Linked DNA regions of Homo sapiens. The protein of the gene in region 5 interacts with the protein of the main gene of each other region in a pairwise test. Each region holds a gene or a part of one and is shown on either strand. Other genes may lie near its edges.

Region 1 (3,500 bases), on a different chromosome or scaffold from region 5:
GTTAACAACAAAAATGTTACTTTTACTACAGTATTAACACTTTGTACATTGGAATTGAAAGTTTGAAAGAGCTATACTTTTAGAAAAACAACAAAAATAATTTTTATTTCTCTGTATTTGTAGACATTTTGAACGAGGAAATTAGCGTTGGTTTATGTTAAAGTATAGGCTGGTGTAGGACTTTATACTAGTTGTTAGTATTAGAGTAGGTATTCCATGTCATCATGTTAGTTTTTTTCTTCTATTCTTTCACTTCATGAGTACATTTAAATTATTAGGATTGGAGTCCTAGGCTCAACGTATACATCTAATAAAAGTTGTATATACATTTTTTAAACTGATGAATCTAAATATTCCCCAATCTATGAATACCCAACTTATCTACATTATTCATTTATTCATGCTTTTAATAAATGTTTAATAGCTTTTTTGCATACCTGACATTTAGCATATAAACACCCTAGAGAGTTAGTAGGATGCTTACGGTAAAGCCAGGTGTCTCCTGTGAGGCCATGTATCTTCTGACCATTTGTTTCTAAATAGCTGTTGTTCACAGGGTATGGGTGCTGTCTGTTGGTTGGGGGTGGTAATGATTGGCATTGGCCCTCTTTTCGCAGATATAGTACCCTGCATTTTGGTGAAAAAAATTGTCTACTTGGTAGTTGCAGTTAGAACATAACTTGCTGGGTCCTTGAATTAACTTTGGAGGGGTCAGAAAGAAGGGATGAGTGGTACAGGAAGAGGGAGGAGAGCTGTAGGATGACGAAATGTGGAAGCCAGGCTTATGATACCATTTCTTTCCGTATTTACTTGCCATGTACAGGCACAGTTCTAGGCTCTGGAAAGGAAAGGAGGACACTTGGTCACTGCCCTCATGCATCTTGCAAAGTCTAGGGGGTCACTGTCATTCCCCTTTCCTTGATATCATGGTCTGGAGGCAGTGTGATCTGTCAGACTCAGGACTAGCTGGGGCCTAGGGAAGATCAGAAAAGTCCTTCCCTGCTCTTCTCATCTCTACTTCTCCTAAGTGAAAGGAATATACAGTTGTTTTTAGAATATTTTAGCTGTTTCACCACAGTTTACTTCCCTCTACCCTTGAATGAGGAGTTGATGTGAGTACTGTCAGAGTATTTGGAGAGGCATACTAGGGCAAAAGGTGTCAAAGGCAAGGGGAACAGCTTGACTGAAAACCATGGAAACTGGGAAGGTGCTTAAGGGTCAGGCCAGTGAGTCATCCAGGTTTGATGAAGCTGGGGGCTAGTGGGAGGGGATGTTTAACTCAGCTCAAATAAGCTGAAGTAAAAGCAGGTTTGTCTTAGGGATTGCTAGGTCCCAGAGGAGCATGTATTTTAAGTATTGTACAGTATGCTTACATTAATTTTATTATTCGTCACAGTTAATGTTTAGTTTTTCATCTATGTTATTATCTAAAATAGGTTTATTTGTTTGGCTAAGCCTGGTAATGCAGTTTTCTTTGAATGTTTCTTTGAGAAAAGACATTCTGATTCCAAGTTGTAGGCAGCTAATTAAAAAAAAAAAAGAAAGAAAGAAACATCACCAGCTCCTAACATGGGATCTCCCTTGGTCACTGTTTTCAGTGACGTCCTAATTATCCTTTACTCATAAGCTCCTTGAAGCCTCTGGGATGTCCATGCCATTTTATGGTTTTTTGTTTTGGTTTGGTTTTTATTGTCTTTTCCTTCACCACAGTTTGATTTTTGGTGGTAGACTGCTAGACTTTAATAGCTAATGCTCTTATCCATTCCCCAATGATAGCATAAAGTAAAACATCCTATTGCAGATGGAATTCCAGGAGGGTAAACAATGCAGGTTCTAAAACGGGTGTCAGGACACAGTTTTAACTATTTTAACTTAGATTCTTTGGCTTAGGAAGACAAAGTTTTAAGAATTATGCAGATAATTATATCAGATGGCACTTTTGTAAACTTAAGAGCCACAGAGCACTTGGTCATCCTTTAAAAATTCAATTTGTTTTCTTATTTTTTTGCTCAAGTCCTGTGGATAATGTCACCTGTAAATGCTTTAACATTATTAACGTAAGTATTTTCATTTGTTAAGCCACTTATTATTCTGAATTAGGCATATATTAGCACACCGAAATGAGTAGTGTAACAGTCTATCTTTTTTCACTTTAGATGTTTTTTTCGTCTTCATTATCAGGACATTTTGCCTGTTAACAAACGAAGGTACTATTGTTTTATTTTCTATTAGAATATATATTTTAAAATCATGTGGGTTTGGATTTCAGAAAGGAGATGGGAGGAAACACATGGCCTTTTAAAGCCAAGGTCCACATTAACTTTCTCGCTTGATCCTTCAGTATTCCCCTGCCCAAAGACCTGCAGCTCTAGCCAACTGGGATAACTCACTGACCCTTAAGTAAAATGTGTACATGTCCACCTTTATGTTTCTCATCCCACCATTCCCCTTGCCTTTACCCACCTTTTCCCTGTTTACCTCTCCAGATACCTTTTACCAGAACCCAGTACAATAGTCCTCCTTTGCAAAGCCTTTCTTGTTTATGGTACCCTGGAGCAAGTTGTTGTCTCACAGGAGCTCATTGTCTTTAGTAATTACTCACGTATTTCCTGTGCCATTCCTTCTATGACCCTAGTGTCAAACTGTTTAAACTTTCGTTATTATTTACCACTTCACTCCTTTGTATCTTTCTCTCCAACATCAGAGATTATCACATATATTTGTTGATATGATATGTATCAGGAGATGACCCTCTTAATCTAGCATAATTTTGAATCATGATATATTGTGGTTGCTAAACATGAATAAGGCTTTAGACCACACTAAATTACAGAAGGTTTTTGTTTTTGTTTTTCATAGAGTGGGGATTTCACCATGTTGCCCTGGCTGCTCTTAAACTCCTGGTGTCATGTGATCTGCCCACCTCAGCCCCACAAAGTGCTGGGATTACAGGCACGACCCACTGTGCCCGGCCAGAGAGTTCTTTAAAAGAATGATATTTTTTATGAGTTGGTCATTAATTCAGTTGCCGTTCACTAAATTTAATGAGTAAATCAGGCCATTAAGTCATTTAGAAGCACAAAACAGATAAAAAATGAAGATTCCAAGACATATAAAATCAGATATGATTGTTCTCTTCATTGTCTGTGCAGAAGCATTGCCTTGTGTGGAAGTGAGGAGGGCAGTGTGGTATAGTGAATGGGAAGAATTCTGGACTGGGATTTAGATGACCTAGGTTTTAGTCCTGGTCTGCTGCTGATTTGCTATGAGAGTTTGGACAAGTTCCTTTGCCTTCCCAATTCTCAGCATTGTTCTCTGTAAATTAAGAGGGTTAAATTAGGTAATCTGTAAGGTCCTACCTGACTCTAAAAGTCTAGATATAGATATCACTTTCTTTATTCTTGGAATAGGTAAAGCAATTTCAAATAAATATACATTTATCAGGGATTCAGAAACCTCATTCTTTATAGTAAATAAAATTTTTTTCCAGCAAAACTGTT
Region 2 (3,500 bases), on a different chromosome or scaffold from region 5:
CCTCACACTCTTGCATTGCACGGCCATTTTTTAGCCAACTAGTTCCCATTGTTCAGCATTTAGCTAGCTTTCGATTTCAGTTTTCCACCAAATAAACAACAGGATGTGGTCATCTGCAAACTTCTCTGCAGGGAATCCTGAAACAAGGGCTAGGTTCTGTTTTAGACTTCTGACACATTCCATCAAATCATCTCCCAGAAACATAGCTCCAATCCACATTCCCAGGGTGGACGGGAATACGGGATTCCAGAAGCCCCAGCCAACAATAAATCCTATTTTTGGAACTCCTGCCTCTGTCCTTATCTGTCACCTACACGGGTATCAGTTCTGTCCCCGCCACCCCAAATTCAAGCCCCATTTCTGACGGTTCACTACTCATCTCTACCTGGACATCCCACAGACGCTTCAAACCCAGCTCGTCCCAAGTCACCTTCTCTCCCATCGTCGCCAAGTTCTCTCATGCCCTCCCCACTAGCTAGCAGGGCTGCCCTTCTTCCGGGCCCAGGTGACACCTCAGCTCCTCCACAGAAGGCTGCCCAGGCCGCCGCATGCTGGCACCCCTCCCCTCACTTCCCTCCTGAGCATCCTCACTGCCCCACCCAAGTCAGGGCCTGCAGCTTCTCCCTCTTCAACGTGACAGACATGCCAGGGACAAAGCCAGCTCCCAACATCATGCTGTCCCCTGCGTAAGTGCCCCCGAGTGCCAGTGAAATGCCAACTGCATGGCATGATCCTGCCCGTTTCCATCTGCAGCCCCCACTGTTCCTGCTAGGCCCTCTAGAGGAGACGCCTGGGCTCACAGAATCCAAGGACATGGCCCAGCCTGGCTCCCTGCTGTGGGCCCACACCCCTGCCTCCACTCCTCAGGCACCGCGGTGCGCAGATCACTCTGTCCCCAGGCTCTCCCGGAGCCTCCTTACCCTCGCGGTGCCCTGTCTGCTCCTCGAAGGCAGGGACGCTCTCACTCCTCCTTGGGTATCTTTGGGTCTCTAATACCCCGAGTCTAACAGGAAAATGTACTGAAAGAAGTGCTGTCCCCCCTGGTCACTTGTTGTCTGTCCTCCTCTCCAGGTCGCCGCCTCCTTTATTAGATTCATCCCCAGAGAGCCTGGCTGCAGGCAGAATCTGATTAGCTACAAATTAGGAAGAACAGAGGGGACATCACCTCTCCCTCTGCTGGGTGACCCGGCAACTTCCTCACACCTCGTGGAGTACAAAGGGCAGGAGAGGCCCGCAGAGCGAGGGGCCGCTGCCCACTCCTTCCTTCCCACCAGGCTCCCTGGAAGACAGTGGACATCAGAGCCAGGCTCTCTTCTCGCAGCGACGACTGCCTGCGGCTTCAACATCCTACAGTGAAATGCCCGGCCTGGCCTCCCGGGGAGTCGGAACCATAACATTGTTTGCTCCCCACCATGGCAGGGCAGACGTGTGCTTGGTGTGTCAGTAGGGTGGGGACCCAACAGCCTGTGAGCACCTGCTCTGTGCTGGGCACTTCATGCCATCTCTAATGTCACCCTTAAATGACACTGTGTGGATAACAGGAGCATTGCCCCAATTTGACAGGCCAGGAAATGGAGGCTCAAAGAGGACAAGCGACAGGCCCCCAAATTCCCATCAGCAAATAGCAGCTCAACTCAACCCGCAGCCACCTGCACTTGGCCAGGTGCTAGGGCCACACAGAGGGGGCCTGGTCCCTGCCCTAAAGGGGCGTGCAGATGAGCTTTGGTACAGACCCAATTTTCAGGTAAGGGTGGTACAAGTTCAAGCCAGGAGCTAATCTGGGCCTCCAAGACCCGTCCCAGCATGCACACGGAAGACGGCACCCCTGCTTTGATGTCTGTGGGCAATAGCATCTCTAGCTCTCCTGCCGAACAGTGGCTGCCTGCTCGTGGCTTTGGCCTTTCCAAGGCCCAGGAACTAGGGTGGTGCTGTCAGTCTTTCCAGAGACTGAGGCCAGCAAGGGTCTGTGTTGGAGCTCACTGAGGAAGCTGCTTTGACGCAGGGGAAGCTCCCGGGCGGTGCCCCCCCTCCTGTGCCAGTCCTCCTGCGTCCTCCCCGCCTCGGTTCCACCATGGCACTAAGCACTGGTGCGTGCAAGACAGCAGGCCCTGACCGAAGGCAAGAGGGAAGGGGTTACAGGAGGGCAAACAAGCCGAGGAAGATGCATTTCCATTTGCTCCTAAGGCGGGTGCCCTGGCCTAGGCAGCCCAGGCACCCGGGGCACCTGGGCATCTGGGAGGAAGCCAGAGATGAACAGCGGCCTCTGGAATGACAGCAGCCTGCTTCTGATTCAAAGGCGAGGCTTCAAAATCTAAGTGTAAGGATGAAAGGAAAGCCCATGGCTGGCCTGCAGGCGACCACAGTCCGTAGGTTCTGAGCGTGGCTCTGTGCTTTACAGGAGATAAGCGGAAGATCCCTTCCGCAACAGGACTCTCGTGAGGCCATTCATTGGACATAATTGATAACCCATTTGTGTGCAGGGAAGGGCTGTCCCATGCCAGAGGTGGGGGTGTACAGGGATAGACATTCTGGTATCTCTGGACAGAATCTGACCCACCCACAAATGTGTCTGCTGCATTTGCAAACCTGGACATTGGGTGAGATTTCTCCCTAGGAAGCAAGGCTTTGAATCGTGGCCCTCATTTCCCAGTCTTGACAGCAAGAATACTCTCTCGCTCTTCCCTCCTCACTGGGCAGCCCTGGGACACCGGCTGTTCTTGGGCCCTCTGTGTTCTCAGAGCAGAACTGTGGGCAGCAGCTTCAAGGCCTGGAAGCTGCCACTCCCCACCCCCAAGGGCTCCACTGCCCTGCAGACCAGAACCTTGCAACCAGAGGGAGCTCACGTAGCCCCTCACACAGTCACTTGCCTTCCTCTGTGACAGCTCAGGATGAGGGTGACAGATCTCTGGCAGTTTCTGGATCTTAGAGCTGTGAGAGTCACCCTCGTCCCCACCCACTCACCCTACCTGCAGCCAGAATCCACTTAATGCAATCAGCGCATTAGGGACAGCATGACCCGCAGATCTTCACTGAGCCAAGCATCGCTCTCCCTCCCGGTGCCCACTGCGTTTTATTAAAAGGCAACCAAGACTAATCTCATTATTGGGGACCAGACACTGCACATGGTGCACAGCCTCGGGGGCGGAAGGCGGAGCAGGGGAGGCTGGGAAGCGGGCAGCCTGGGCTGGCTACAGCCCTCCTTATCAACAGCAGAGTTTGAATTGAGTTAGGAAAGACTGTGACTGCGGAAAGGCCGATATCTCTTCTTGATGGGTGAAGGGGAAAACAGCTCAATTGCCCTAGAGCGTCCTAGCATGTGATGAAGGAGAAAGCAAAGTGTGGTGTGAGCTATTAGGGTACTTTCTTAGCACCCCAGTAGCCCCAGGAAGAAGGGGCTTCCCAGGCAGTGCTCCCCATCCCATGCCAGTCCTCCTGCATCCTCCCCACGCTTGTACCAGCATGGCACTAAGCCCTGGTGCATGCAGAGACACCAGGCCCTG
Region 3 (3,500 bases), on a different chromosome or scaffold from region 5:
TTCCTAGTTTTGTAAGAGAAGACTTAGCCCTTAAGAAAAGAATTAATAAGAATAATTACTATTTGGCTGGGCGCGGTGGCTCACACCTGTAATCCCAGCACTTTGGGAGGCAGAGGCAGGCAGATCACAGGGTCAGGAGATCGAGACCATCCTGGCTAATAGGGTGAAACCCCGTCTCTACTAAAAATACAAAAAATTAGCCAGGCCTGGTGGCGGGCGCCTGTAGTCCCAGCTACTCAGGAGGCTGAGGCAGGAGAATGGCGTGAACCCGGGAGGTGGAGCTTGCAGTGAGCCGAGATGGTGCCAATGCACTCCAGCCTGGGCGAGAATGCAAGACTCCGACTCAAAAAAAAAAAAAAAAAAAAAGAATAATTACTATTTGTTAACACCAGTAAAGAGGACAGCATTGATTTTGGAGGGTAATTAATAAGTTGATCAGTAATACCCTTGGCACATGGAAGAATAATTGCACTGTTGATATTAAGAAGTCACTCATAGGAAATGTCATTTTTATCAGCATTTTTTTAATTGAAATGATTAGTCTTTACATGGGAGGAAGCAGCCTCTTACCTGCATAAGGATTTTTGAAATGCTCTCAGTAATTCAAAACCATGTCCAGATGTTTAAATTACTACATGTAATAGCCTTATACCTATTGCAGTTTTCTTTAACATGGTTCAGCACTTTCTCAAAGGAAATTTCAATTATTTTTCCTCAAACGATAGAAAACAAAATGAACAGGAGCAGGCTGAACTCGATGGAACCAGTGGTCTGGCTGAGTTGGACCCAGAACCAACGAATCCTTTCCAGCCAATAGCATCTGTAATCATTGAGGTATGAATGATGGCAAATGTAATTTTTGTATCTTAAGTTATAAGTTGGAACTTGGAAAAGAAGGTGGAAAGTTGGGAAAGGAGGCAGGGAAACAGATGTGTTTCTTCTGAGAGATTATTTCTATAAGAAATTAAACATGAGAGACTGATTAAAGGTTTACTGCTTTTTCTTACTCTTAAATTACCTTTGAATCTAGTGTGAAAGGGGGAATATGACTTCAGAATTAAATGACAATAAATAAATTTGACTGTAGCAATTATTATAGTTGCTGTGTTGACAAATCTATTCTGTCATTTATTTCATATAGTAATAACATATTTACTCTTATTTACATTTTCTGTGTTTCTGTATTGCTGTTACTGTCCATCTGCAATATTTACTTAGAATGCATTAGGGTACATAAACAATTTTCTATTTTTCCAGGATACTTAAGGATGTTTGAAACTGCAATAAATTCTCCTATATCTGAATATCATTTATTTCCATTTTAAATCAGAAATTTTACCAACATTAATTTGTAGATTTTAATTATGAAGACGTTAAGGGGTTGTGTGTGTGCGCGTCTGTGTTTTTGTTTTCATTTTCTGCTCATGTCCAGAGTTTGCATTGGCTCTGCTTTTATGGCTGGCAGCAGCGATGCCTCTTCTGAGGCATTGCTTCCTAAACCTTAGGCTGACTTCCTGGTCCTACCTGGAAGGTTTTTTTTTTTTTTTGTCTCCATTCTATCAGATATTATATTTGTCAAGTTTTGTTTTATGTTCTTTTAAAAATATTGAGAGAGAAGAGGTCAAGTTGTACTTTTTACTTTGAAACAACAATTATTCTCTGTGTATAATAAGGCTTGCTTTATAAATAATGGCTAATTATTTTATAGTACCATGGGTATAAATTGTGTAGAAGGCTCTAGTGCTTCTCCCAGCACCGTATTTCCCACAATGTATAGAAGTGAATAATAGTGGTGTACGACATAGTATATATCACATATAGAAAGTTCCCAAATTAATAAGTGGCATGGGGAAAGTACACTTAACGCTTTGAAACTACAATTTCAAGAAGATGGCCAGTAAAGAAATAAAAGCAAATTAGCTATAGTTTTTTTTTTTTAACCATACAGATTTTCTCTTTTTTTCCCCACAAAACTTTTTTAGCATGTTTCTTGGTACAGAAGCACCTAACATTTTTTTTTATTATTACTGCAGATAATTAAAATGGTGAGATATTGGAAGGTATTGGTTCCAGAAGAGACAGACAGATCAATGGAACGAATATTAATAAACCTATTTATGTATGAGCATTTTAGTACAAGATAAAGATAACATTTCAAATCTGAGAGAAAAAAATAATAGAACAACTTAATAACCATTTAGAAAAAGGAAAATTATTGAATATTGTATACCCAGTTAAATTCCAAAAGTATCAAAAACTTAAATACGTTTTAAAAAGTGAAAGTCTTCAAGTTACTAGTAGATAATATAGATAAGTCTTTATATGTGCTTGGAGGAGGAAAAAATTTCAAAGCAGGACAAGCAAGCCACAAATCATAAAGGAAAAAGGTGGATAGATCTTATACTACCCAATTTTTAAAGAGCTATTCTACAAAGTTAAAAAGCAAAAATGAAAAGAAGTAAACTCTAGTGAGAAATAGAACACATAGTCTTATGTGACTCTGTGACTAGTCCTAGTGACACGTATGCACAAAAGAACTCTTACAAATTACTATGAAAATAATGAGAATCTAATAGAAAAGTGGGCATTGGGTTACCAAAGGCAGTTTCCTAAAAAAAAATTAAAAATGTCAATAAGTGGCCAGGCACGGTGGCTCACGCCTGTAATCCCAGCACTTTGGGAGGCCGAGGTGGTTGGAGTTCAAGACCAGCCTGGCCAAGACGGTGAAACCCTGTCTCTGCTAAAAATACAAAAAATTAGCCAGGCGTGGCACGAACCTATAATCCCAGCTACTCCGGAGGCTGAGGCAGAGAATTGCTTAAACCTGGAGGGGTGGAGGTTGCAGTGAGCCGAGATCGTGCCACTGCACTCCAGCCTGGGCGACAGAGCGAGACTCCATCTCAAAAAAAATAAAATAAAATAATTCAATAATAGTTCATTTTTGCTGGCAATAAAAATTTTAACTTAAACTCAAATGAAAATAACACTAAGTTAAATAAAAATATGTATTAATACGGCAGAGATGTAAAAGGTCAATCATGATATGTGGTATTGAATATGATGTAGAAAAAAATCACTCTCCCAACCCTTTGCCTGAGGTTCATTGATTCATTTTTTCTGAAGGGAAGTTTGTGACTATATGTGACATTTTTAAATTTGCCTACCCACTGACTCAACAGTTCTACTGTTAGCAATTTAATCTAAAAAAATTAAAAAAAAGCTATTAGGATGATTCTGTTTTTTAAAATAGTGAAAAATTGGAAATACTTTGTTCATTGATACAGAATTGGTATGCTATAAACATTCAAAATAATAATTGATGAAAATAATTGTATCTAACATTTATGTAGCATTTACTATGTGTAAGGCACTGTTCTGAGCACTTTATATATTCATTGGCATGGAAAGAAATGTATATTCTTCAATAAAAACTTCAATTCTTTTTTGTTTAAACAACAAATACATAAGTATATATAGATACATATATTTATGTATGTTTC
Region 4 (3,500 bases), on a different chromosome or scaffold from region 5:
GACCTAACTGGCCAAGAGTTTTGTTTGGCCTGCTTAGTATTTGTGTGTGGGTTATTTTTTGAGGTAACATTCTCATATAAAAATGCAGCTCTCCATCTTCTTTTAAATATGAATAGCCAGCCTTAGTGTGCCAGCATCCTTAGTGGCAATCCTACTTAATAATGGTTGCCACTTTAAGATGGAATATGTGCTTTCTTATTCACCACAGCCCAGGACACTTCTGTTTTTCCAACACCTTGCATTTGTGACTCTGCATTATAAATTATTAAAATTGGTAAGCTCTAACTTTGGTCTTGAGCTTTCTGGTGGCCACACCGTTAATAGAGAAATGCAAAAGTTTTCTAAAGAGCTGTTTTGCATGTGAAAAAATCCTGTGTCTTATTCTCAGAATTTTATTTGATTAGCATCATCAGTTCATCATTCTTGATTTCCGGATTGTTAGATCTACCCTTAAAAGTTTTTCATCTGCATAAAATTAACCACCTTATCATCTTCAGTGTTTTCATATGAAATATTCTTCATAAATTATACATTTAAATTTTTTATCCCAAGATAAATGGTCATACTAAAGTGCTTAACTTTTTTTAAAAAAAAATCTGTATTTCTTAGTTATGCCCCGTGGTGCCCTGCTTGTCAAAATCTTCAACCGGAATGGGAAAGTTTTGCTGAATGGGGAGAAGATCTTGAGGTTAATATTGCGAAAGTAGATGTCACAGAGCAGCCAGGTACTGTAAGTCTTTGGTTAGTTTTGTTTCTTTGCTGTTTGGGTTGATATATTTATCCTTTTTTCTACATTGCATAGTCTTAATTCTACCTTTCTTTAGGTTTTGAAAACCTAACAGTCTGCAGCTAGTTAACCTGACTTGTCCACCTCCCTGCTGGGGGCTCAGTGTGCAATGGTTGCAAAATGGAGATTCCCTGGTTGTGTATACACCTCATTTCTTGAATGTGTTGCTTTAAGGGTTCTTGAAGACATTACCCTCTTTTTATTCTTGCCCACATAACTGCCTCTGATTTGTTGTTCTTTGCATCCCAGGCCCCAGACTAGTATGTAAGATGCCTTTGAGAAGTCCTAGGACACTGTGGTTCAGGTGAACATTGGCCAAGCCACATTTGCATCCATACCAGGCTTCAGAATAAGGAGCATGTGGTTGAGTGTTTTTCTGGAGTCAAGGTCACGTTCCCTGACAAAAGAAGACCTGAATCTCTGAAATTGAGTTTTAAATTTAGTACCTATGATTTGAGGATGTGGGCTTCTAAATATAAAGCCCTCGTGGTTGTGAGGTCAAGTGCACTCCTGACTTGGTCCCTGGACAAGTGGCAGGTCCTGCCCTTAAGGAGGTTCCTTCCACAGACCAATCTCATCTTACCGTTCTCGGTAGTCACACTACCCTTGGATTCTTGGCTGTCCCATCCCAAATGGTAATAATAGGTAATATTTATCGAGCGCTTGCCTATTATAGCACTCTTCCAAATATCTTGTGTTTATTATTTAATCCTTATACAACCCCGTGAAATATGTAATGTCCCCATTTCACAGATAAGAAAACTGAGGCACAGGTCAATTCTCTGTAATATCAGTGCTTGACACATGGCTAACAATAAATGTTAGCTGCTATTATTTTTGCCTGTCTCATGAAAGATTCATAGTATTTTCCATTTTTAGCAGCACCATAAACTGCCTTTGTTTGTTGAATGTCAAGTACAATTCCATTGGATTTTAGATCTAAGACCCTATTACCTTGTGCTCTCCCATGAGCACAAGGTGCTCTTATTACTAGTAGTCTTAATTTTGACAGTGATATAAATGTTGAAGTGTTTTTATTTAAAAATGTATTCAGTACTCTAGTTCTACATACTTTTTAACTGAGATAATGTGCAGTATTGTGTTTTTTAAAGTTGCTTTAAGTACATAATTCATTTTTAAATTATGTATTACGAAGCTCAACTATTAGGTATAATTTCATATTCTTTCCTATTAGTATGTATTTAAATAATTCAAAGTCACGTTTTAAGTAGTCAGTGATTGGCCTATGTAAAACCTGCTGTGTGTTCTTTATTTGTAGGACTGAGTGGACGGTTTATCATAACTGCTCTTCCTACTATTTATCAGTAAGTATTTGAAGATTCTAAATTATGGAGAAGGATGCATTATAGTGTAATCAGAAGTAGTAGGCCTCTGGCTTGGATCATGCTGGAAGAGCTGAGGTAATCTCATTATATTCAGCAGGTATTTTAGAGGGCTTGTTTTGCTTAGTGTTATCCTAGGTGCCTTTAGGTAGTTGAGTGATGTGTGAAACAGTCTCTGTTCTCAAAGATTTACAGTTGTTTTGGAAAGTGATGTTCTTGTGAAATGGTGTGATCCTGTTCAGCGTGTTAAGTCATTATGCATCCAAAGTAGTGGTGAGTCCTGTAGGTAATTGGATAAAGGAGAAATCACAGTTACCTGGATTGGTTCCCAGAGAATATGGGGTTTAAATGAAACCTTGGAAGTAGAATTTTAAGAGTGGAGCGTAAGCATTTTATTGTGAGGACAATCTCATAAACAGTCATTAACAGGAACATGTTATGTCCAAAAAGTAGCTAAGAAAGTGCTGTTGTACAGCCTTGGGTAGAGTAATAGGTGACAGTTGGGTAATAAAACAGAATGAGCAAGATTATGTAGTCTTCAGTGTCAGGTCTATTAGTTTGACTTTATCTTCTAAATTGAGGGTATGAAATCTCAAGTCTGTGTACCCCAACATCATGTAGCTGGTAGGTTAAATACCAGGAGGTACTGAAAATAAGTTGACAATTCTTTGTATTTATAGCTTGCTTTTCTTTGCCCTTTTTTCTTTTTTTTATGGTTTTAAAATTCACCCCTACTCCCTTTACATCTATATAAATTTCTGTTCGCTGTCTCCATAAGTGCTTCTGTCCTGCCCTTCTCATTCAGTCCTTTTCCCCACGTGCCCCTTCAGTCTCTCCCTTTGCTTTTCACTTCTTAGTGCCCTGTGACCTTATTTGGAATTTCCTGCCCTTTTTCTTTTAGTCAAAATTGTTTACCATATCCTTTCTCCTGTTTCCTGCCTGTCGAAATCTTACCTATGCTTCAAATAATAGCTCAAATGACACTTCACAAAAACTTTGTGTTTTGGGGTGGGGGGCTTCCTCGTGGTTTTTACCTCTGAGTGGATAAAGGGTCCCTTAACCCTACTTAACAGGTCCCTAGTAGGGAGCTGATGAGTTTTTGCACTTAAAGATGTTGGAGCCAAGAGAACATTTGTGACTCTGACAGAACTTTCTACATTGGGAATGGGAAGGAGGAGGTGGATCTAAGGAAGGCTGCAAAGCTCACTAAATAGTCACTGAAATGAGAGGAAGGGAAGCACCATACCAGATGCCTCCAGTGATTTAAAGCAGGGTGTCTGAGGTGATGCTATTATAGCCAAAAGTACTAGAAAAATGCCTTAAAATTTTAAGTTATAGCTTAACAGCTAATAATTACTATGTGCCAAGCA
Region 5 (3,500 bases):
TTAGTGGAGACAGGGTCTCACCATGTTGACCAGGCTGGTCTCAAACTCCTAACCTCAAGTGATCCTCCTGCCTCAGCCTTCCAAAGTGCTGGGGTTACAGGTGTGAGCCACCATGCCTGGTCATTTTTTATTTTTTGTAGAGATGGGGTCTCACTATGTTGCCCAGGCTGGTCTCAAACTCCTGGGTTTAAACAGTCCTCTCATTTCAGCCTCCCAAAGTTCTGGGATTACAGGCATGAGCCACCATGTGTGTCCTTTGCTTAACTTATAAATTCATCCCACTTGGTGCTGTGGTGGGGACACTGTGTCACAGGGGCTCTGCTAACCAAAGGTCCCATGAGCACCTCATTTCATGGCTGGGTAAACCGAGGCCCAAACATCTCAGGGCAAGGATTTCAGCCTGAGGGCTGTTTGTCCTCTCTGAGCTTTGGTTTTCTTTCTTTTTGAGGAGGGTGGGGAGACTGGGTTCTTGCCATTTTGCCCAGACGCTGGGCTGAACTTGTGATTCTCCCACATTGGCCTCTCAAATAGATGGAAACTCGGCAAGTCTCAGTTTTCTTAAAAAAAAAAAACAAAAAAACAAAAAAACCAGACCAACCATTGTTCACTGAGCTGGTCTCTAGCACCAGCACTGTCACCCTGAAGTCTGTCCCATCCTGCCCAGTGTCCTGCACGTGGGGTTCCCCACTCTGGTGGCAGAGTGGCCATTGGAAGTTTGGTTTGTGCCCCAGTGTTGGGCCAGCCCCCTCTGGACAGCTAGTGGGCAGAGCTGAGGGTAGGAGTGGGGGCTCAGGGGAGCGGGTGCCTGTTTGAGCTGCCAGGTGACAGGCTGCATGTCCCTGGACCCTGGCAGGGAACGGGCTGTTGAGGAAGAAGACGCTGGTCCCAGGGCCGCCAGGTTCGAGCCGCCCGGTCAAGGGCCAGGTGGTCACCGTACATCTGCAGACGTCGCTGGAGAATGGCACACGGGTGCAGGAGGAGCCGGAGCTGGTGTTCACTCTGGGTGACTGTGACGTCATCCAGGTGCGGGCTGGGGCGGGACAGGGCAGGGGCGAGGGGCGTGCCTTGCTGGGTCTGAGTCTGCCTGACAGCTGGCTATCCCCACACACCCCAGGCCCTGGATCTCAGTGTCCCACTCATGGACGTGGGGGAGACGGCCATGGTCACTGCTGACTCCAAGTACTGCTACGGCCCCCAAGGCAGGTGAGAGTCAGCCACCCTTAGGTCTCTGCAGGTCTCAGGAGGGGGATGGGTGGAGTGGGTGTACCCCTCGGCTCACCCCATCTACTTGCCCATTTTATAGACAAGAAACTGAGGCTGGGTGAGGTGGCTCACACCTGAAATCCCAGCACTTTGGGAGGTTGAGGTAGGAGGATTGCTTGAGACCTGGAGTTCCAGACCAGCCTAAGCAATATAGACCGCATCTCTATACAAAAAAATTTAAAAATTAGCTGGGTGTGGGCCGGGCGTGGTGGCTTACGCCTGTAATCCCAGCACTTTGGGAGGCCAAGGCGGGTGGATCATGAGGTCAGGAGATCAAGGCCATCCTGGCTAGCACGGTGAAACCCCGTCTCTACTAAAAATACAAAAAATTAGCCAGGCGTGGTGGTGGGTGCCTGTAGTCCCAGCTACTCTGGAGGTTGAGGCAGGAAAATGGCGTGAACCCGGGAGGCGGAGCTTGCAGTGAACCGAGATTGCACCACTGCACTCCAGCCTGGGCAAGAGAGCAAGACTGTCTCAAAAAAAAAAAAAAAAAAAAAAAAAAGCTGGGTGTGGTGCACACCTGTAGTCCCAGCTACTGAGGAGGCTCAGGCAGGAGGATCACTTGAGCCCACGTTTTTGAGGCTGCAGTGAGCCAAGATTGCACCACTGCACTCCAGCCCGGGCAACAGAGTGAGAACCTGTCTCTTAATAAAAAGGAGGAAAACCGAGGCTTAGGGAGGGGAACTCGTTCGTCAAGTCCCGCAGCTCCAAGGCGGCAAGTCACTTCCCCTGCACTTTACTGAGGAGGGAATGATGGAGGGCAGAGGGGAGACAGATCGGGGGCTTGAGCCAAGCTCACTCCTTCCTAGCCAGCCCAGCGGGTTTAGGGGTCACCAGGTCTGAGTGCTGCCCCTGCCTGCTCCCACCCAACTAGCAGGAGCCCATACATCCCCCCGCACGCGGCCCTGTGCCTGGAGGTGACCCTGAAGACGGCTGTGGACGGGCCTGACCTGGAGATGCTCACGGGGCAGGAGCGCGTGGCCCTGGCCAACCGGAAGCGGGAGTGCGGCAACGCCCACTACCAGCGGGCGGACTTCGTCCTGGCCGCCAACTCCTACGACCTCGCCATCAAGGCTATCACCTCCAGCGCCAAAGGTGACCGCCTGGGTCAGATCTCCACCATCTCCCCTGCAAAGGTGTCCACTCCGTGCCAGAAACTTCCAGCCCCAGAGAGCCTCAGACTCAGAATATTCTAGAATAGCCCAGAATATGGGTAGATCCCCAACTGCCCCTAAGCTAGGGCCTGTTACAGACTCGTGGTATATCCCAGACCAGTGGAGTGTTGTAGAATGCAAGTGGATATGGGGATGGGGTGACCATAGACAGGGCCAGTTCACATGTACCACAGGCTAGGCCCTCGCTTGCTTAAGTCTCCATCTTGTAGCTTCCTCAGGAGAGCCCCAGGAAAGCGTGGCCCTTGGTCCGGGGTTAAAATTGGGGAAACTGAGGCCAGAGAGGCAGCCTCCGCAGAGGGGTGGGTGCCGGGGTGTCTGGTGGCATGGTGACGGCTGCCGTGGCGGGCACTGTCTCCCAATAGTGGACATGACGTTCGAGGAGGAGGCACAGCTCCTGCAGTTGAAGGTGAAGTGTCTGAACAACCTGGCGGCCTCGCAGCTGAAGCTCGACCACTACCGCGCAGCCCTGCGCTCCTGCAGCCTTGTGCTGGAGCACCAGCCAGACAACATCAAGGCTCTCTTCCGCAAGGGCAAGGTAGGCCACACCGGGGTGCCAGGCCGGGTCACTCAGCCTGGGGTATACGGGGTGGTCCCCAACCCTGCATTTGAGAAAGGCATAGGTATATAAGCCAGCTGAGCTCTGTGGGGTGCAGGTGGAGAAACTGAGGCCCAGACGGGTGCAGGAGTGTGGCCTGGTCACAACAATTCATTGGCTGAGGCCAGAATTTGATCCTCGAGTCTTGGGTCCCCAACCTTTGGCCCAGTGTTTTTTGTTTGTTTGTTTGTTTGTTTCTTGAGACAGAGTCTCACTCTGTCACCCAGGCTGGAGTGCAGTGGTGTGATCTCAGCTCACCACCGCAACCTCCTCCTCCTGGGTTCAAGCGATTGTCCTGCCTCAACCTCCCAAGTAGCTGGGACTACAGGTGCGAGCCACCACACCCAGTTAATTTTTGTATTTTTAGTAGAGATGTGGTTAGCCATATTGGCCAGGCTGGTCTCGAACTCCTGACCTCAAGTGATCTGCCCGCCTCAGTCTCCCCATGTGCTGAGATTACAGGCCTG
Region 6 (3,339 bases), on a different chromosome or scaffold from region 5:
CTGGGAGGTAGAGGTTGTAGTGAGCTGAGATCATGCCACTGCACTCCAGCGTGTGTTGCAGAGTGAGACTCTGTCTCAAAAAATAATAATAATAATGCAACTCTTTTTATGCATCCCTCTGCTTAGTATCCTTTAATAGCTTCTCATTGCTCTTATGATGAAAACCCAATCCTTAGTATGGCCTTCAAGGCTCTATGTGGTCTGGCGCCTCTTACTCACAAACTGCATCTTGACTTCTGTGCCACGCTGCCCTTTTAGGGTGAATGTGCCATGCTCCCTGTCACCACAGGGCCTCTGCATATACTGTCCCCTCTGCCTGGAAAGGGCATTCCCATCCTTCAGCTTATTAACGCCTGCTGTAATTTCAGATCTCAGTCAGTCTTCACTTCCTTGGCTAAAAGCCTAGCATGATCTCCCTGAATAGGTTGATCCCCCTGTTGAGCTTTTTTGTGTAGCATCAATTATACCTGAAGCACACATTGTACCTTGTTTTTCTTTGTGTGATTGTTTAAAGTCTTGTCCCATCAGACCTGAAGCATTGTAAAAGGGCAAAGACAGTTACGATTACTTTTGTATTCTCCAGCTCCTAGCACAGCGCTTGACATGTAGTAGGTGCTTTGACAGATACCCAGTGGGAATTGCATGCAGGGTAGAGGAAATAGCGTCTGCAGGGCGATAGCATCTGCAGGGCATGAGAAACAACAGCATTTTGGAGAAAACTAACACATTGATGGCTAAAGTGTGGGTTTTGCAGAAGACAAGTGGTAAGAGATGAGGCTGGAAGGGCAGGTAGGGCCCAGGCTGTGAAGGGCCCTATTTGGCCAGTATTGGTATTTGGACCCATAGGATGTGGGCAGCTAGTAATCTCCCCTACTTGGGGAAGGAGGAATAAGCATAGGATGAGGCGTGAGCCTTGAGAGATTGGTGGGGCTTGGTCTACTTCTGATTCCCCTGCGTAGAAGACTAATGAGTTTTGACCCTTCTTTGTATCTTTTTCAGCCGCTACATCTGTTACTTTTGTTGGTGTTATGGGAATGAGATCCTACTACTATGGAAAATTCATGCCTGTAGGTTTAATTGCAGGTGCCAGGTACTTTCATTCTATTACTCTTCTTTACCATGTAGAGTTCAGTTTATTGCCCAGAATACTTTATGCATTCAAAACCTTACTTGTTTCAGAGTATCTGATGCTATGCATCAACTGACGTTTGACTTATACACTAATAGGAGATGCTTCAAAAACAATAGTTGATTTAATGTCAAATGACATGAGTATATCCATTCACTGTGGAGATGGCTTTGTTCTCTGGTCCTAGCTCCTTCCTATATGGTGGCAGAAGTTTTATTGCAAAGCTATGACTGCAGCCTTTTGTGTGACTTGCGGAGGATGTGTGGGGGTCCCATATTTCTTAGGTGTGTAGGTGTCTTTTGTAGAAAATTTTGCTAAAAGGAAATTTTGATTGAATCCTGTTTTCTAATTTTGATTATAATACCTAAACCAAATTGTGGTTTTTAAAAAATGTAGTTGTAGGCCAGGCACGGTGGCTCACACCTGTAATCCAAGCACAGTGGGAGGCCATGGCGGGCATATCACTTGAGGTCAGGAGTTTGAGACCAGCCTGGCCAACATGGTGAAACTCCTCTCTATGAAAAATACAAAAATTAGGTGGGTGCGGTGGTGCACGCCTGTAATCCCAGCTACTCGGGAGGTCGAGGCAGGAGACTTGCTTGAACTGGGGAGGCGGAGGTTGCAGTAAGTTGAAATCGTGCTGCTGCACTGCAGCCTGGGCAACAATGAGTGAGAGTCTGTCTCAAAAAAAAAAAAAAGTTCACTTGTTAAGTATGATAAAGACATCCTGAAGGCAGGGGAATTTTTAAAATCCTGTTTTCAAGAAAGATTACATACTCTACTCTGATCATAGTCGTGATGCTGCCAGTATAATATTTTATACCTGAAGCAAAAGAGTCAGTATGGAGCAAGGTCTAGAACAGTAAACTGAGAGGCTGGAGTCTACCATAAATCAGATCTGTGATGGTGGGGAGGCCTTGCTTTCTCTTGCCTCCATTTCTTCATCTCTTCAAATTACTGGCAGTTGGATTAGGATCTAGCTCATGTGTGCTATTTTAAGACCTCAGTGAAACTGTCCCTTGGCTTGCTTTTTCTCTGGTTCCCCCAGGGATGGAAATTTTACCTCTGACCACTCTTGCCTTAGTACCTCCTCCCCCACACAGTTGTGAGGAACCTGCAGAGTTTAGTTCCTTAAAAACATAGTTGCCTGTTCTATCCTTTACCTGATGTTTTCTATCTTACTTGTTTTAAACAGTTTGCTGATGGCCGCCAAAGTTGGAGTTCGTATGTTGATGACATCTGATTAGCAGAAGTCATGTTCCAGCTTGGACTCATGAAGGATTAAAAATCTGCATCTTCCACTATTTTCAATGTATTAAGAGAAATAAGTGCAGCATTTTTGCATCTGACATTTTACCTAAAAAAAAAAAGACACCAAATTTGGCGGAGGGGTGGAAAATCAGTTGTTACCATTATAACCCTACAGAGGTGGTGAGCATGTAACATGAGCTTATTGAGACCATCATAGAGATCGATTCTTGTATATTGATTTTATCTCTTTCTGTATCTATAGGTAAATCTCAAGGGTAAAATGTTAGGTGTTGACATTGAGAACCCTGAAACCCCATTCCCTGCTCAGAGGAACAGTGTGAAAAAAAATCTCTTGAGAGATTTAGAATATCTTTTCTTTTGCTCATCTTAGACCACAGACTGACTTTGAAATTATGTTAAGTGAAATATCAATGAAAATAAAGTTTACTATAAATAATATTTCCTATGGTGTCTTCATTGCCAGAGCTGGTCTAGTTCATAGAATGAGATGTTGCTAGATATAGAAACTTGAAAGTATTTTGTTGATATTTAGAAATTACCTATTTTGAGTAATTTAAGGACCAAGGAAAGTTATTTGATTGTACATTGCATTGAAGCTTGTTTCAAAAATGATCTCTGAGGATTTTTTTGTTTGTTTTTTAAGAGACAGGGTCTTTCTCTGTCACCTAGGCTGGAGGGCAGTGGTACAATCATATCTCACTGTAGCCTCAAACTCTTGGGTTCAGTCATCCCACTTCAGCCTCCTGAATAGCTGGTACTACTGGTGCATACCACCTCGCTAATTTATTTTATTTTTTTGTAGAGATGGGGTCTTGCTCTGTTGCTCAGGCTGCTATCAAACTCCTGGTCTCATGCGATTCTCTCTCCTTGGCCTCCCAAAGTGCTGGGGTAATGAGCATGGCCACTGAGGATTTCTAAGATTTAGGACTGTGTAGCAA
Region 7 (3,500 bases), on a different chromosome or scaffold from region 5:
TACCCCATCCCCTTAGGTCCTTTGTGACCATGTGCTTTATACCTGAATCAGTTATCTTTTGCTGCATAACGAACCACCCCAATACTTAATAACTATTAAAAATAGCTCGTTTATTTTTAAAGCAGTTTCATTATTTCTTAGGAGTCTTTGGGTCTCCTATAAAGTTCTGCTGATTTAGGCAAGGCTAATCTCAGCTGAGCTCAATGACATGTCTGTTGTGGTCAAGTGATGGGATGCTTGTGAGCTGCTGGTCCCCCTACTATTATTAGCGGTACACTCAGAATGCATCAACTGCCTTTGCATTATGCTTGAACTAGTTATTACCAGGAAGGCCACTCTGCCTCCAAAATGGGGAGAAGGTACACGCTTACCCCCTAGGTCAGTACAAAGAATGGAAACCGATGATGTGTAAAAATACCTGCTGATGATCTCGTCAGTATAGAAGGAGTAGCACTTTGAGATAATACTTACATTACTCAAGCCAGACATCCTAGAGGAGATGAGCTTGTTTGGGGATTTTGATGGAAAAGGAAGGCTGAATCTTGGCAAATGTGATAAGGCTTAGCTGTTGAGTAGGCCGAGCAAGAAAGGGTGGGGTGGGGGCAGAGCCAAGCAAAGGGCTGTGGGAAGTTTGCCAGGCCAGAGAGGAGGCGTGCACCAGGAGGTCGGCAGGCAGACTGTCTGGGGCCAGCTGGGGACAGTCATAAAATTTAGACTGTCCCAGCAGGAAGGGGCTTCAGAAGTTATCCAGCCTCATCGTCATTTAATAACGGGGGACACTGAGGTCTCAGGGTCGTGGACTTGCTTGTGGCCATCCAAAGGCAAGTAACAGAGCCCAAGTTCAAGCCCTCATCTTTTGACTTAAATCAGATGCTCTTCCATTCCTTATGGCTCTGCTTGGGGAGTTTCTCCCAAGTGCACAGGGAACTGGAAGGACCTGGGAAACCACACTGGAGCCTCCAGCCTGCAGCCTTTGCCTCTTTTTCTTCCCCAAAGTCCAGCCTCTTCATTCCTTTCGGAGGCCACTGCCCTGGCCTTGGCTTTTTCCCCACCTGAGAAGAAGCAAGTCAGTGGAGAGTTTCCTGAGGGTACGTGGCAGGCCTGCCAGAGACCTCACTCCTCCAGCAACCTAGACGTAGAGCAGGGTGCCTTTCGAGGGGAATGACTGGATGGCTGGGAGGAAGCCGGGGGTCCGGTGTGCAGGGGGTAGAGGGGTGGGCAGATCCTGCCTGTCCCTGCTAGGATTGTGAGGCAGGTATGGGTGGGTAGTTTCTGCCTCTCTTCCCTTCCTAGCTCTTGTCTACTGTACCAAAAGGGGAAATGACAAAAAGTCAGCTCAAAATTCCAGCTGGAATACTTGAAACACTTGACACTTGCCAGGAAATTAGTTCTTTTTTATTTATTTTTTATTTTTTGACAGAATCTCACTCTGTCGCCCAGGCTGGAGTGCAGTGGCACGATCTTGGCTCACTGCAAGCTCCACCTCCCGGGTTCACGCCATTCTCCTGCCTCAGCCTCCTGAGTAGCTGGGACTACAGGTGCCTACCACCACGCCCGGCTAATTTTTTTTTTTTTTTTTTTTTTTGTATTTTTAGTAGAGACGGGGTTTCACTGTGTTAGCCAGGATGGTCTCAATCTCCTGACCTCATGATTCGCCCACCTCAGCCTCCCAAAGTGCTGGGATTACAGGTGTGAGCCACCATGCCCGGCCGAAATTAGTTCTTTAAAGTAATTTTTCCATATAGAACCCATCCAAGAGGTAGATGATTCAGGGTGGGACAGGATCCAAGGCTTTGTAACCAGAGTGGAACTCTTATTCAGAGCTTAGTAAGCCAAGGCAAAAGGACTCTTTGTGAAAGGTTCAGTTTATAGGATGATAGCCCCATATGCTCTGTGGCAGCTCCTGGGATGGGGCCTCATCTTCAGCCCCGGCCCTGATTTTGTAACTGGTTATGTGCAGATGTCAAAGATGGCCCCAAGACCCTGTTCCAGCAGCTTAGGTGATCTGACATGTGGGTCCCAGGCAGGAGGCCACTATGAACTTTATAGGCTGCAAATGAACCCATGGTTTGCTTTAAAGGCCCAGCAGAGATTTAAGGGTATGGCTGTAGGAATAGTTACTGCTATTGCCCTGCCACCAGGTGATCCACTTAATGCGTCAGCCTTTGTATCCCAAGTCCTCCACCTTTCTCTGACCCCTTAGACTGCTGGGGGCCACAGGGTAAGGCCTGGGGCTGGATTGGACAGGAGCCCTTGAGAGGCTTGTCTGAGTCTGTGCTCCCCACCTTGAGCACAGGTCATGGAAAGTGACAGAAGCCCTTACCTGCTTCCCCCATGGGGAGAATCGGCTTACTCCAGCTTGCGGCACAGGGCTGTCCACCACCAAAGCCTCAGAGGAGTCCAGCTGGGGTAAAGCCGCCATCTGGGCAGTGTCTGCTCCTGATGTTTGCATCTGGGCTGTGTTCTACTGGTGACAGGAGGAAACTCTGCTGAGGAGATGCTGAAAGGGCTGCCAGGCAAACACAGCCCTTGGGCATCTCATCTTCCTGCTCCATGTCAACCCAGGCACCACAAGGCTGTGCTTAAAGGTAGGAAAAGAGTGGCCTGACACTGGCCAGCAGCCTGGCAGAAGCAGGGTGACCTCACACAGTTATTCTACAAGCTCACCCAAAGTCCATAAGCCTTTTTAAGTGTTGAGAACTCGGGGCACACTGAGGACCTCTTCGTTCTCCCAGGGCCTGGCACCCATGAGGTTTCTAATTGCTGTTTGTTGAGCAAAGGAACAACCTGAACTCAAAATTCTCCAGACTTGAGACTCCCTGCACCTTGAATCTGTGCCCTCTGACAGTCTGAGCATTGAGGAGGGTGGCTGGGAGGGGACAGGCTATGGGATACATGGCCAGGGAGGAGAGAGGAGTGAAAGAGCTAAGGCAGTCAGGAAGGCACCTGCACCAGCACAGCCTGGGACAGCACGAGGGCACTGGAGAGAAGGACAAAGGAGAGGAGCCCAGCAGGCGGGAGGAGGGCTGGAGGACAGCAACGATTGGCTTCTCCTTGCTTCAAATGGGTGCCAGCACCCAAGGGTGAGCAGCGCCCCAGAGCCCCTGAGAATCCTGGGCCAGGCCATGGGCTACCAGTGTCTGTCCACTGGGAGGGAGGCCAGGCAGAGTGAGGTGGAGACCCACACACGCCAGCAGAATACACAAGAACGCATGCTCAGATGCCTGTCCAGGTGGATGTAACTCATATGTGCACATATTCCCAAACACAGACCTCCAGGTGCAGGTGCCTGCCAGCTAGACCAGTATATGTGTACATCATGTGTATGGTTGATAACTACATATGTGCATGAACACACACATGTCCCAGACCAGATTTGTACTGATAAGCACAGTAGGGTAGAGTGCAAAGGTCATAGGGTCACAGGTCCCAACCCCTCCCTCCACTAGCAAGCTCTGTGTGTTTAGGCAAATTACTTAACCTTGACCTTCAGTATTATA

Evidence for each region.
Region 1: the proteins of FKBP8 (region 5) and ELOVL4 interact in binary tests that used the Homo sapiens proteins (3 or more experiments, as listed by UniProt).
Region 2: the proteins of FKBP8 (region 5) and CYB561 interact in binary tests that used the Homo sapiens proteins (3 or more experiments, as listed by UniProt).
Region 3: the proteins of FKBP8 (region 5) and ARL13B interact in binary tests that used the Homo sapiens proteins (3 or more experiments, as listed by UniProt).
Region 4: the proteins of FKBP8 (region 5) and TMX1 interact in binary tests that used the Homo sapiens proteins (3 or more experiments, as listed by UniProt).
Region 6: the proteins of FKBP8 (region 5) and TMEM14B interact in binary tests that used the Homo sapiens proteins (3 or more experiments, as listed by UniProt).
Region 7: the proteins of FKBP8 (region 5) and MYLK interact in binary tests that used the Homo sapiens proteins (3 or more experiments, as listed by UniProt).

Annotation. Positions count from the first base shown.
Region 1 is NC_000006.12:79,941,054-79,944,553, reverse strand, and holds part of ELOVL4 (very long chain fatty acid elongase 4), read left to right. Parts: intron 1-3,500. UniProt on the Homo sapiens protein: Catalyzes the first and rate-limiting reaction of the four reactions that constitute the long-chain fatty acids elongation cycle.
Region 2 is NC_000017.11:63,439,807-63,443,306, forward strand, and holds part of CYB561 (transmembrane ascorbate-dependent reductase CYB561), read right to left. Parts: intron 1,022-3,500; exon of another isoform or gene 921-1,021; intron 462-920; exon of another isoform or gene 394-461; coding exon of another isoform or gene 386-393; intron 1-385. UniProt on the Homo sapiens protein: Transmembrane reductase that uses ascorbate as an electron donor in the cytoplasm and transfers electrons across membranes to reduce monodehydro-L-ascorbate radical in the lumen of secretory vesicles.
Region 3 is NC_000003.12:94,039,155-94,042,654, forward strand, and holds part of ARL13B (ADP-ribosylation factor-like protein 13B), read left to right. Parts: intron 1-725; coding exon 726-834; intron 835-3,500. UniProt on the Homo sapiens protein: Cilium-specific protein required to control the microtubule-based, ciliary axoneme structure. May act by maintaining the association between IFT subcomplexes A and B. Binds GTP but is not able to hydrolyze fit; the GTPase activity remains unclear.
Region 4 is NC_000014.9:51,243,247-51,246,746, forward strand, and holds part of TMX1 (thioredoxin-related transmembrane protein 1 precursor), read left to right. Parts: intron 1-609; coding exon 610-725; intron 726-843; exon of another isoform or gene 844-978; intron 979-2,066; coding exon 2,067-2,112; intron 2,113-3,500. UniProt on the Homo sapiens protein: Thiredoxin domain-containing protein that participates in various redox reactions through the reversible oxidation of its active center dithiol to a disulfide and catalyze dithiol-disulfide exchange reactions.
Region 5 is NC_000019.10:18,537,074-18,540,573, reverse strand, and holds part of FKBP8 (peptidyl-prolyl cis-trans isomerase FKBP8), read left to right. Parts: intron 1-853; coding exon 854-1,023; intron 1,024-1,114; coding exon 1,115-1,203; intron 1,204-2,137; coding exon 2,138-2,358; intron 2,359-2,800; coding exon 2,801-2,973; intron 2,974-3,500. UniProt on the Homo sapiens protein: Constitutively inactive PPiase, which becomes active when bound to calmodulin and calcium. Seems to act as a chaperone for BCL2, targets it to the mitochondria and modulates its phosphorylation state.
Region 6 is NC_000006.12:10,754,143-10,757,481, forward strand, and holds the end of TMEM14B (transmembrane protein 14B), read left to right. Parts: intron 1-999; coding exon 1,000-1,090; intron 1,091-2,324; coding exon 2,325-2,376; 3' UTR 2,377-2,839; downstream 2,840-3,339. UniProt on the Homo sapiens protein: Primate-specific protein involved in cortical expansion and folding in the developing neocortex. May drive neural progenitor proliferation through nuclear translocation of IQGAP1, which in turn promotes G1/S cell cycle transitions.
Region 7 is NC_000003.12:123,702,833-123,706,332, reverse strand, and holds part of MYLK (myosin light chain kinase, smooth muscle), read left to right. Parts: intron 1-2,323; exon of another isoform or gene 2,324-2,467; intron 2,468-3,500. UniProt on the Homo sapiens protein: Calcium/calmodulin-dependent myosin light chain kinase implicated in smooth muscle contraction via phosphorylation of myosin light chains (MLC). Also regulates actin-myosin interaction through a non-kinase activity.